2 separate regions of the Homo sapiens genome follow, and region 1 is linked to region 2. Evidence: fine-mapped expression QTL. A gene starts in region 2. The other region holds a variant in brackets. All regions are shown on one strand. Distances are between the middles of the regions.

Evidence for each region. PIP is the estimated chance that this variant, and not a neighbour inherited with it, causes the effect.
Region 1: its variant is the best candidate, but not a certain one, in a credible set for the expression of RETREG1 in neutrophils (Naranbhai 2015, PIP 0.87).

Annotation. Positions count from the first base shown.
Region 1 is chr5:17,441,990-17,447,364 of GRCh38, forward strand. It overlaps LINC02218 (long intergenic non-protein coding RNA 2218), which reads left to right and starts at 2,021. Exons shown (of 3, transcript NR_134270.1): 1 at 2,021-2,245. The variant CT/C (reference allele first, on the strand shown) is at 3,308.
Region 2 is chr5:16,614,688-16,620,008 of GRCh38, forward strand. RETREG1 (reticulophagy regulator 1) reads right to left here and starts at 2,310. Exons shown (of 9, transcript NM_001034850.3): 1 at 1,965-2,310. The coding sequence starts at 2,284. It overlaps RETREG1-AS1 (RETREG1 antisense RNA 1), which reads left to right and starts at 1,239. Exons shown (of 4, transcript NR_109946.1): 1 at 1,239-1,799. RefSeq lists a silencer at 2,064-2,553.

The sequences.
Region 1 (5,375 bases), 830 kb after region 2:
AATGAACTTACATGACTAGGCACGGTCCCCAGTTCAGTTTTATAGACAAGGATTCTGTAGGTCAAGAAGTGAAACACAACCAATAACAGCAGGTGACAGGATTTAAACCTGGGTCACTTTACTTATTTTTTTCTACTCTATCATTATGTGAATCTATCCTACCTCTGCAATGACAGATGGCCCTAGAGCAAGAACACTTCCTTACATCTGGTATACAGTCAAAAAGTAAAAATTCCACACAAATAAATATGGAAAGAATTTTTACCTGCTCCTATAGCTTCCTTTCAGGGACCTGGCACCCACAAATGTTGGGTAACAGAAAGAGGACTTATGTAACTTAACTCAAAGCAGAAAAGTTACAGAGACTGTCTTAGCATAATAGAGCATGGAGTGGTCATGCTTGGATGTGCAAACTGTCTGATAGTCTTGCACATGGCTTGACCCCGAATTACACTAGTGGGGCAAGTTGCCTGGGGCAAAGCAAACTTATTGGACCCAAAGCTCTCATTTGAGAATTTTGTTGACTAAAAGTTATAAAATATCAGCAATTTCATATGGTTCAGCCTAATATTTTATCACTCTTCCTTTTTCTATTCTAAAACAATAATTTTTAATAACGTAAGCTATACACATACATGCTTTAAACATACAACACCCTGACTATCATATAGTGGATATTTCAAGAAGTAAATGTTCAGCATGTCTTCACCCCCACTTGAAGACATAATGTATGTATTAGGCTGTTCTGGCATTGCTATAAAGAAATACCTGAGACTGTGTAATTTATAAGAAAGGAGCTTTAATTGGCTCACGGTTCTGCAGGCTGTACAGGAAACATATTGGGTCTACTTCTGTGGAGGCTTCAGGGAACTTTGACTCATGGTGGAAGGTGAAATGAGAGCAGGCACCTCATGTGACTGAAGCAGGAGCAAGAAAGAGAGAGCGAGCAAGGTGCCACACACTCTTAAACAACCAGAACTCTCTCTTGAGAATTCACTCACTGTCTTGCCGTCAGCACCAAAGGGATGGTCCTAAACCATTCATGAGAAATCCTCCTCCATGATCCAATCACCTCTCACCAGGCCCTACCCCCAACACTGGGATTACAATTCAACGTGAGATTTGGGCCTGGACACAGATCCAAACCCTATCAATATATTAGCCAGATACTTGCAGCTGTATGAAGAATACCCTGGTTACCCAGCTACAAATGCAGATGTTATTGATAAGGGAGGGGGGCAGGGAAGTGCTGGGAGGAGAAAGCAGGTCTCTGGCGAGGGCTTCACCCCGGTGCCTGTGCCCACAGACCTAGGTAAGGGCAGGCACTCCTGCCTTTGCGCCCAAATGTTGCATTTCCCAAGACCACCCTGGCCCACCACGCCCCCATCCTGTGCCTATAAAAACCCCGAAACACTAGTGGGCACTCACACAAGCGGCTGGACGTCCAGAGGACGTCAACAAGAGCACGCCGACAGGCAGACCCTGGCAGGCCATCGACTGGCGGAAGGACATGGAGTTTGGCTGCGTGGTTGGAGGAGAGCCAGGCCGCTAGGTGGCCTGACTCCAGGAAACTACACCTTCCCACTCCATCTCCCTTCTGTCTCCCCTGTCTGCTCACAGCTACTTCCTCTCAATAAAACCTTGAACTCATTCTCCAAGCCCACGTGTGATCTGATTCTTCCGGTACACCAAGGCAAGGACCCTGGGATACAGAAAGTCCTCTGTCCTTGAGATAAGCCAGGGGGTCTAATTGAGCTGACTAACACAAGTCGCCTACAGATGGCAAAACTAAAAGAGCACCCTGTAACACACGTGTGCCCACTGGGGCTTCAGCTGTAAACATTCACCCCTAGACACTGCTCTTGGGTTGGAGCCCCACAACCCAGCCGTCCGCATGCTCCCCTAGAGGTTTGAGCAGTGGGGCACGGAAGAAGCGAGCCACTCCTCCTGTTGCACACCCTGCGGGTGGCGCAAGGGAACGTTTCCTGTTTCATCATCAGGGATATTGTATCGGTGTCTTAAATAACACTAGCATTTTGACATATTTGGAGCTGCTACTGGGCCAGCTCTGTTTCCAGGCCTGCCTTTCAATCTTTTCCTTGCTTCTGGCATGAGTTACCATCTCTTTTAAGAAATTGGTTATGCATTTGAAAATACACGTAGCTATACATACTTTAAACATATCATTTAGCAAGGATGCTCCTTATCGGACCGTTGCTGGGAACAGAGAACACGACAGTTCCAGGTGAGCGAAATAGTGTGATCTCATACATGATGAAAGCTAAGCAGGCAACAGCTTTTCCGTAAGCAAGCATTTCAAAATGTATTTGTAGAAAGGCAGTAAAAGAATAAGATGCAAATCAAGCTATTTTTAAACCATCGTTTTCAGGGCCAAGGAAGAAATTATGAGAATGAATTTTTTAAAAAAAGATTATAAGGTCTTTAGTGGTGTTTTTAGTTGAAGTAATTTAGAGATGATTAGGTATTGCTATTTTTTATTCAATTCTTTACAACAAAAGCTTACAGAAATAGAAAGCTTTGCCATTTCTTTTCCCCACAACTTTAAAAAGTAAAGAGTGAGTGTTGGGTCACAATAATCTTTCTTTTTTAGTCTCCTTTTTGTGCAAATTCATCCACCATCAAATTACATTGTACTCCTTCCTCCTCTGTGACTACCTGTGGAAGAATGTTTATATAAATAAACCCAAAGGCCTGTCTTTTTGTCTGTTGCTCTGAGTAAGTGGTGCAAAATAGATGCCTTAGTCTGGTGATTTGATTTAATACAAATGGACCTTGTTAGAACACTTCTTTACACCTGAGATATTGGGAGATTTACTTGTAACCTTCCTTGCTACGTGAACAGCAGTAGTATTTGCTGTTTCTAAGATGTGTTGTAGTTTGAAAGATTTTGTTTGTATCATGCCAAAGTGACTGCATTAAGAAGTTCCTAGTTGACTGATTAAAACAAAACAAAACAAAACTCCTTTAATCATTCAGCTGTTTGACCTATGCTAGTGTATAGGTGCTATACACAATTATATATTTTGATGCTTTCTGTTTTATTATGTGGCAGTGTGTAGTCCCAGTATTTATGCTAATTATATCGTTCTTTGGAATCCAGTTTTTCTTTTTGTAAATTTGGATTAAAGTCTATCATGGCTCCTTTCAAAGAGAGCACTAAATGTAAATGGAGGGTTCTTTGATACCATTAGAGAGATGGGACTGAGATCTCAAAGAAATAGGCTGCACTGGCTCTGGGGTGAATGGGTCCTATGACTTGTAGGGCTTCAGAGTAGGACACACAACT[CT/C]GGGGCTAAAGCTCAGGACATTGGCCATGCAGTTGAACATTTCTGCCCGTTCTTTCCTGGTCCTGCCCTGTGCAATTTCCAGCTTCTGTAAATACATATTGAAGGTATGTATACATAGCAAAGGTGTGCCAAAGTGTACAGTTGCTCAGATTATTTGCACACCTTGGTTTGGCCCTGGCCAGTTGAAGGAGTCATGAGGAAATACCTTGCTGCGATGACTTCTGTCATTCATTTCTCTGTGTATATTGGTACTAATTGATTTTTTTTGGCAGAGTTTAAAGTACTTTTGAACTTTTCCCCTTTCTTCTCTCCTCTGCTTCTTTTTCCAGACTGTTTCCAAGATTGGATGAAGAGATTCAATTGACAATGCTGTGAAGAGAGGGATTTGGAGCTTGTTGGGGGAGGTAGTGTTGACTTCCTTGTGCAATCTAGGATTGAGTGGGGGATGCAGTTGGAAGGCAAGAGAAGTAAGACTCCTCCATCTTCCTGGTCCAGAGAAATTATGCTGGATCCCCCTACCCTTAATGAGAAAGGAGGTGTTTGTGTTTCCAGCATCTATGAGATCTGATTGCTAATGTAGCTACCTTTAAAGAATTCTGCTATTTACAATAAAAGTGAGATCTCCCTCCTCCATCCTGTGTTACACAGCCTGGGATTGCACCGTTGTTCCTGGCACCTTTGCATTGCAGGAGCCTGCCTTTGACTTTCTTTCCTCTCCACACATCTTCTATTCCTGCTGCTTCTCTTTTCAGAAAGTGCTGAGCTTCTAGGCTAGTGTCCCTCTCAACGGATGAATATTCAGCAGAGAATGGAGAGCTTTCAACCGTAAGAATCAGGATGTGGCTGTTTATAAAGTTATTGCATTTTTTTGAAGAGTGGCTGCAATTAGTTTTGGTGTTAGGCAGCAAAAACCCCAAAATGTTCTTTCTGATTTCATGTTGCTTGCATAATACAGATACCCATTTACTGGAAGAAATCTTCATGGGTAAGTGTATGAGTGTGTATGCATAAGTATGTGTATGTGTGTGTGTGACTCCACATATATTCCTAGAGTGCCTTCTATGTGCCAGGCATGGTGTTAGTTGACATATGTAATTGAGAGTAAAACAGTCATGATCTCTGCTCTTAACCAATTTACAATCTAGGATAAAATAGACCTTCCATGTTCAAATCCACAATGACATTAATTGCAATATGATCATTGTTGTGCTTGAATAATAGCTAAGAAAAGCACAAAGAACTTACAAGGTGGCTTAACAGAAGAACATCATCTAGCTTAGAAGTCTGGATAGCCCCTTTCTAAGAAAGCGGTACGAGTAAGGATGAATAGGAATAGGCCAGATAAAATACGAAGCCAGGAGTTGGAGGTGGACACGGGGGAGGGAGGTGACATTGTACTGATGGAGAGATGTGGAGAGCTGAGGAGGCTGATGAATGTAGAGAAAGTTGAAGTGTCACTGGATTGCAGTTCTTGATAGGTAGAAGTGTTGTATGAGGGGACGAAAACAAGGCCATTGGAAAGGGAAGTTGAAGATGGTGGTGGTGGTGTTTGTGAAGGTATTTATATTATTGCAGAATTATCTGAAGTGCAGTTTCCAATGTTAACCAAATTCATGGTGTGACTGTGGAAGTTGGTGCTTGAGGTGAATGATGACAACTATCAGTGGGTATCAGGGTAAGGAACTGCTGGGCAAGGTGTTGATGGTGCATCCAAGTGATGTTAAATCTGCTTAGCATGATGGTAGGGTTGGGTGAAAAGGAGACTATGAGTTGAGTGCTAAATTCTTTAAGGAGTGACCAAATGATTAAGTGAGGACTAGAGGGAGAAGAAGCTCTTATTGTCAACTACTCAAAGGAGCAACTTACAAAAGAGAGTGCAGTCATTCGTCTGCAAGTGGCATTGGGTAGTCAGGAGGACGTTGCCTTGGTTCTGATACTGAGATATTTGGAGTTTGATGGAAAATATCTCCCAGCCCCTGCTTGAGAGGAGAAGCAGTATCCTTAGGGGACAGTGGGTTTCAGTGAAGTCGAGAAACTGTGGTGTGTGTGTGTGTGTGTGTGTGTGTG
Region 2 (5,321 bases):
CATATATGCAAAATGATGCATGTACAGGGTCATTAGCTATAATGCTGAAATAGCAAAAGCTTGGAAACATTACTGCCTCAGTAGGAGACAGGTTAAGTAATTTGAGACATCCTTACAATAGAATTCTGAAGCAGCTGAAAAAGAACAAGGAAGCAATCACCAAGAAATACTAGGAAAAGGAAGAGCTCATATGTTATTCCACAATTTGCATAGAATATGGTGTATTTGCTGAAATGTGCACTATCTGGAAAGAGACACAGGAAACTAGCAACATTGCTGGCCTCCGTGAGGAAACTGGGCGGCCAGGGACTGGGATGAGAAAGAGATTTTCAAAATGCTTACCCTTTTGTACCTTTAAACTTTTGCACTGTGAGACTGTATTAGTTTTTTAAAGAAATAAAATTTAAAATTAAGAAATAAAATGTTAAGGCCGGGCGCAGTAGCTCACGCTTGTAATCCCAGCACTTTGGGAGGCCGAGGCGGACGGATCACGAGGTCAGGAGATCGAGACCATCCTGGCTAACACGGTGAAACCCCGTCTCTACTAAAAAAAATACAAAAAACTGGCCAGGCGTGGTGGCGGGCGCCTGTAGTCCCAGCTACTCGGGAGGCTGAGGCAGGAGAATGGCGTGAACCCGGGAGGCAGAGCTTGCAGCGAGCCGAGATCGCGCCACTGCACTCCAGCCTGGGCGACAGAGTGAGACTCCATCTCAAAAAAAAAAAAAAAAGAAAGAAAGAAAGAAAAGAAAAAGAAATAAAATGTTAAAAACATCGTAAACATTAGTGAGACACAGCCCTAAGACTATTAGACTATTGCCCAATCTAGCATAAGACAATATGTCCTTCTTATTTGAGTGCTCGCATTCACTCCATAATAAGATAGATTTGGAATAAACTCTATTCCAAACACAGATACCTAAGAGATCCAAAGTTAATTCACTTTCAGGGACCTCCGACAAGATACAGCTAGTTTTAAGAGAAAACACCAGGACTAGCAGAGATCTGAGGAAAATATTCATCTTGCTCAAGTTAACCTAGAAAATGACAGGCTGTCTATTTTGTGCAATTTATTTATTTCTCAACTTTAAGGTTCAGAAATCTCTGTCCTGTAACAAGGTATCTGTTACCGGAGTCTGATTATTCTGCACTGTGTAGGTCATGTTTGTTATGAGGACACTTAGCAAACAAAGAAGGTTTTTCTCCGCCCTCAATAGCGTGGTAACGGATGACAGGACACCACTTTCAACGAAGGAGACAGACATTTCCCTGGCCTTTCTGAAGAGCGCTTTTTGGAGAGACAAACCTGTTGCTCAGGGGCTGAGCATTCCCGTGTGTTCTCCCTGTACTTCACCTAAAAATATGCCTGTTTTCCACACTGTGCACACCCGGGGGTGGGTGCTGGGCATACTCCACCTGCTTGTTTGCCTCCCGTTTTCTCATCAGGGAGTAAACACAGTAAACCTAACGCTCCAGGGGAAGGAAAAAACAAATCATTCAGGGCCCATCTCAGGTGACTGATGAATGCGGCACCGTTTTGAACGGGTACCTAATCTGGTCCAGATATGCCTGCTGGGGCTGCAAGAACCAAGACACGTTCAAGCACGTTTGCTCCGGCAAGCTTGGGCGAGCAGGTCAAGACCTCAGAGTTTTAGAAAGCAGGGGCGAAGTTTTCAAGCACGATGGGAACACCTGTAGGTGCAGGTGCCTGAGGGTCGGCCGACCACCTCGCATCTGAGGCTGGATCCGCACACGGAGAACGACAACTGCTCACAGGGACGTGCGTCCGGAGGAAAGTTGCGGTGAGTGTCTACCTGTTCGAGACAGGTGGCCGAGAAAGTGGGGCAGGGCTGACAATTCTTCCTCCGCAGTGTCCCGCGGGCTCCCCCTGCACTGGGTCCCCGGGGCCCCGGGCGCCCCAAGGTCACCTGCCCTCCTCAGCGCCCCCACCTTGCCCAAGCTCTCACCAGAACAGCAGGTTGGCAGCGACGAAGCCGAGCAGGCTCCGCAGCGGCCTCTTCCAGCTCAGCAGCTCGTCGGCGCGGCAGCCCAGCCACAGCACCGGCTCCCCGAGCAGCCAGGTTACCGCGGCCGCCGCCCGGCCCGCGGCCTCCTCCACCTGCAACCCCGCGCCCTCCGCCGCCCCAGCTTCCTGCGCTTCCTCCTCCTGCTGCTGCCGCTCTGCGGGGGATGCCTGGGGCGGTGGCGGCGACGGCGGCGCCTGCTCCTCGGCGGCAGGAGCCGGGCATCCCTCCTCGGCGTGCTCCGGAGGCGCCGGGCTCGCCATCTTCAGCTGTGCTTCCAGACAGGGACGGGGCCGGGCGCGCGCGCGGGCGCGCCTGGGTGTGGGTGCCGCCGAGGGCGGGGCGGCGGTGGCGGCAGGTCCCGGAGCGGGGCGCGCACCGCGGGGCACAGGCGGCTGGGGGCCTTGTGACGCCACAGGCCACGGAGGGGGAGCCGCCCGGGAAAGTGGGTGCGGCCGAGTTCGCGCAGGGGCGGGGCCGGGCGCCGGGAGCTGGGCGGTGTCCCCGGGGGGCTCTGGGTTCCTGGAGGGCCTCTCCGGGACTCGAGGAAAACGACCTTTTCCCTTGCAGCGGCGGGAGAGGGCGAAGTGGAGGACTGCTGCTCGGTTCCGTATCCAAAAGAGACCCAAGGCTCCAGGCAAAATAGATTGGACATTTTCACTTTCTCAAGCCAGGGCCACCGGTCGCCCAACCAGCAGCCACTGAGGGTGGTATCGGGGCGCCCCTTCCCCTGGCAGCGTATTTCAGCCCCCAGAGACATCCCCCACCTCGGCCATCCCCAGCGCCTTTGCAGGGACAGCAGCACAACCATAGCAGAGGTCCTGGGCATCCTGGAAATAACGTGCTGGTATAAATGTTGGATTGAGAAAGGAAGAAAAAACATTTGGGGTCAATTTGGGGCCCTCTCGTTTGACACGGGAGGAAACACAAGGCCGCAGCGTTGGGGGAAGCTGCTTCCTTTCTCTCTCTTCTTTCTCTCTGTCTCAGGTGCTTCCTTTCTCTTCTCTGTCTCTCTCTCTCTCTCTGCCTCTCCCTCTCTCTCCCCCGTCTCTCCCCCTATCTTCCCCTCTCTCCTCCTATCTCCCCCTCTCTCCCCCTCCTTGTGGCTAGGTGATCTGGCTCAGAAGTGCACGTTGGCCCGCGCGTGCGGGGAGCTGAGAAGCAAGAGATTGGAACTTTGCACGTGTCAAGCAAGGTTTGGCCTGCTTTGAAGACAGTAATTTCAGAGCCACTCCGGTCTCTGCGTCACAAGCGGGCATCAGGGCAGTGGTGGGGCGGCAGGGGATCCTGAGACCTCCCATGCCCTCTCTTTGGCCCCGGTGCTTCTGGGTGAGTGTGGGGAGAGAGGAAAATAGTTGTTTATGCTTTTCACCATTTGCATTTTTAAATTTTTGTCTTCTTTAATCTTCCTGGTCTTACTTTTACTCTAGAATGACAGGTCCTTCCCCCCCATACTAAGGGTTCTGTCTGCGGATGCATCAGGGCATCTCATATCCCTTTACTGGCAACCAGCCTGCCTGCACAGGATGGAAGGGAGGGCAATTAAATTCCCTGCGTCAAGGGAGTCTCTAGGGGAATGTTCTGTAACGCTCCTCTGGGTGGCCATTGTAAACCTCTGTGTATACACACGTGGAATCCATTGATCTGTACATTCACTGCAGGTGTCTGCACTTTACTGCTTGTATGTTGTACTTCAAAGGAGTTATATTCCCAGAGCCCAGGCAAAGGCTTACTGAGCACCTACCGAGTACACAAAGCATTGCTAAGCTCTGTGGATGCAGCTTCCACCCACAGGAAGCTCCCAGTCTGATGAGGGCCCAGTTACAATTGTGATATCTGCCACAGCGAAGAAGCCTTCGCTAAGTGCTAAGAGATTCCTTACTTAAACTGTGCATCCAAAATTAGGGGAGGAGTGGAGGGATCAGGTTTCAAGAGCGTTTTGTAATAAATGGCCTCTGCCCTAAATTGTAGGGCCCCCATTAGTGTGGGGATTGGGGACAGGGGCAATAACTGCTGTTGGGAATTCAACAGGAGAGGAGGCATGGGGTTGCAGGTGGAGACGCACAGTTCCTTAAGTAACTCACCAAAGGGAATAGTGGACATTGAATGGTCTCTAGTAACAGGAGGCTTGGTTTTTAACTAAAGGTGATACAGAACATCTGGCATTTCCGACTCCCCTTCTTAGGAGTATCCTGACAACCCGATGGAAAGTGGCCTGGGTGTCAAGGAAAAAGCAACGTGGAAACAATTCAGGTTTCTTCCATATAAGAGAGACAATCTTTTCCCAGGTGTGGGTCCTCCCTCTTGGCAGTAGCGGAGAAGTTTTTGAAAGATAAATGATGCTTTTATTGTGTCATTTGGCCTTTGTTTGGCGCTTGATACAGCCCAGGGTTTGCTATTCTAAAATCTGTCACTAGACAGATGTGTGCTGCAGCCAGTGTGGAGAACATGGGGCAGGAGAGAGGAAGAACCAGGTGTCCCCGTTCCCCAGACCAGTGCTGATGTGCTACCAGAAATGGGTTTGCAAGATTAATCACCTTCCTCCTGCTTCCCTTGAATTCTAATTATTGTTGTCAGGATCTGTTGAAGTAGTAAAAGCTGCTGGCAACCAAGACACATAAAAGCTAAGCTCCAGTTGCTGTGTGTGGTTTCCAACACTTATTTATTATCTCTGTTTAATAATAAACCTCCTTCCCCACAGCTATGTGTTGTAAAGTCTATCCTTTCTCTCTCTCTCAAAATTACTATGGAGAAAATGCTATGCAACCTGTTTTGCATAAAAGGCTGGGCTAATTAACCTTTCCTTTTCACCTCCGACCTCTAATACTTACAAACTGTATGACAGAAGTAGACACTGGCATAGACATACAAATGGTGCTGCTGGGTGGGATTTTGTTGTTGTTTTGTTGTTTGTCTAATGATCTTTGTGATGCTTGAGTAATTTATTCAGGGCTAAGATTACAGAAACATAATGCTAACAATGGTTGAAATCAACCTTGTCCCCTAGTTTTAAGAACACGCCACATTCTTGAACTCCTGCAAGTAATCTTACTAAGATTCTCTTCTGAAATTTTATTGCTATATATTAGGAACAGAGTGATTAACACTAGTGAGCTAGATGATTTGACAATATATATCTGAGAAAAGGAAACTGGAAACGTGTCTGAGAAAAAAAAAAGTTCTAGCTACTGAATGAGAGTTTAGAAAATGAGACAGCTCCAGTAAAGAAAGTCCAAATGCACATAAGAACTCTCTAACAGAGGCCACTCACTTTTCTCATCTAAGAGTATGTGGAAAGCT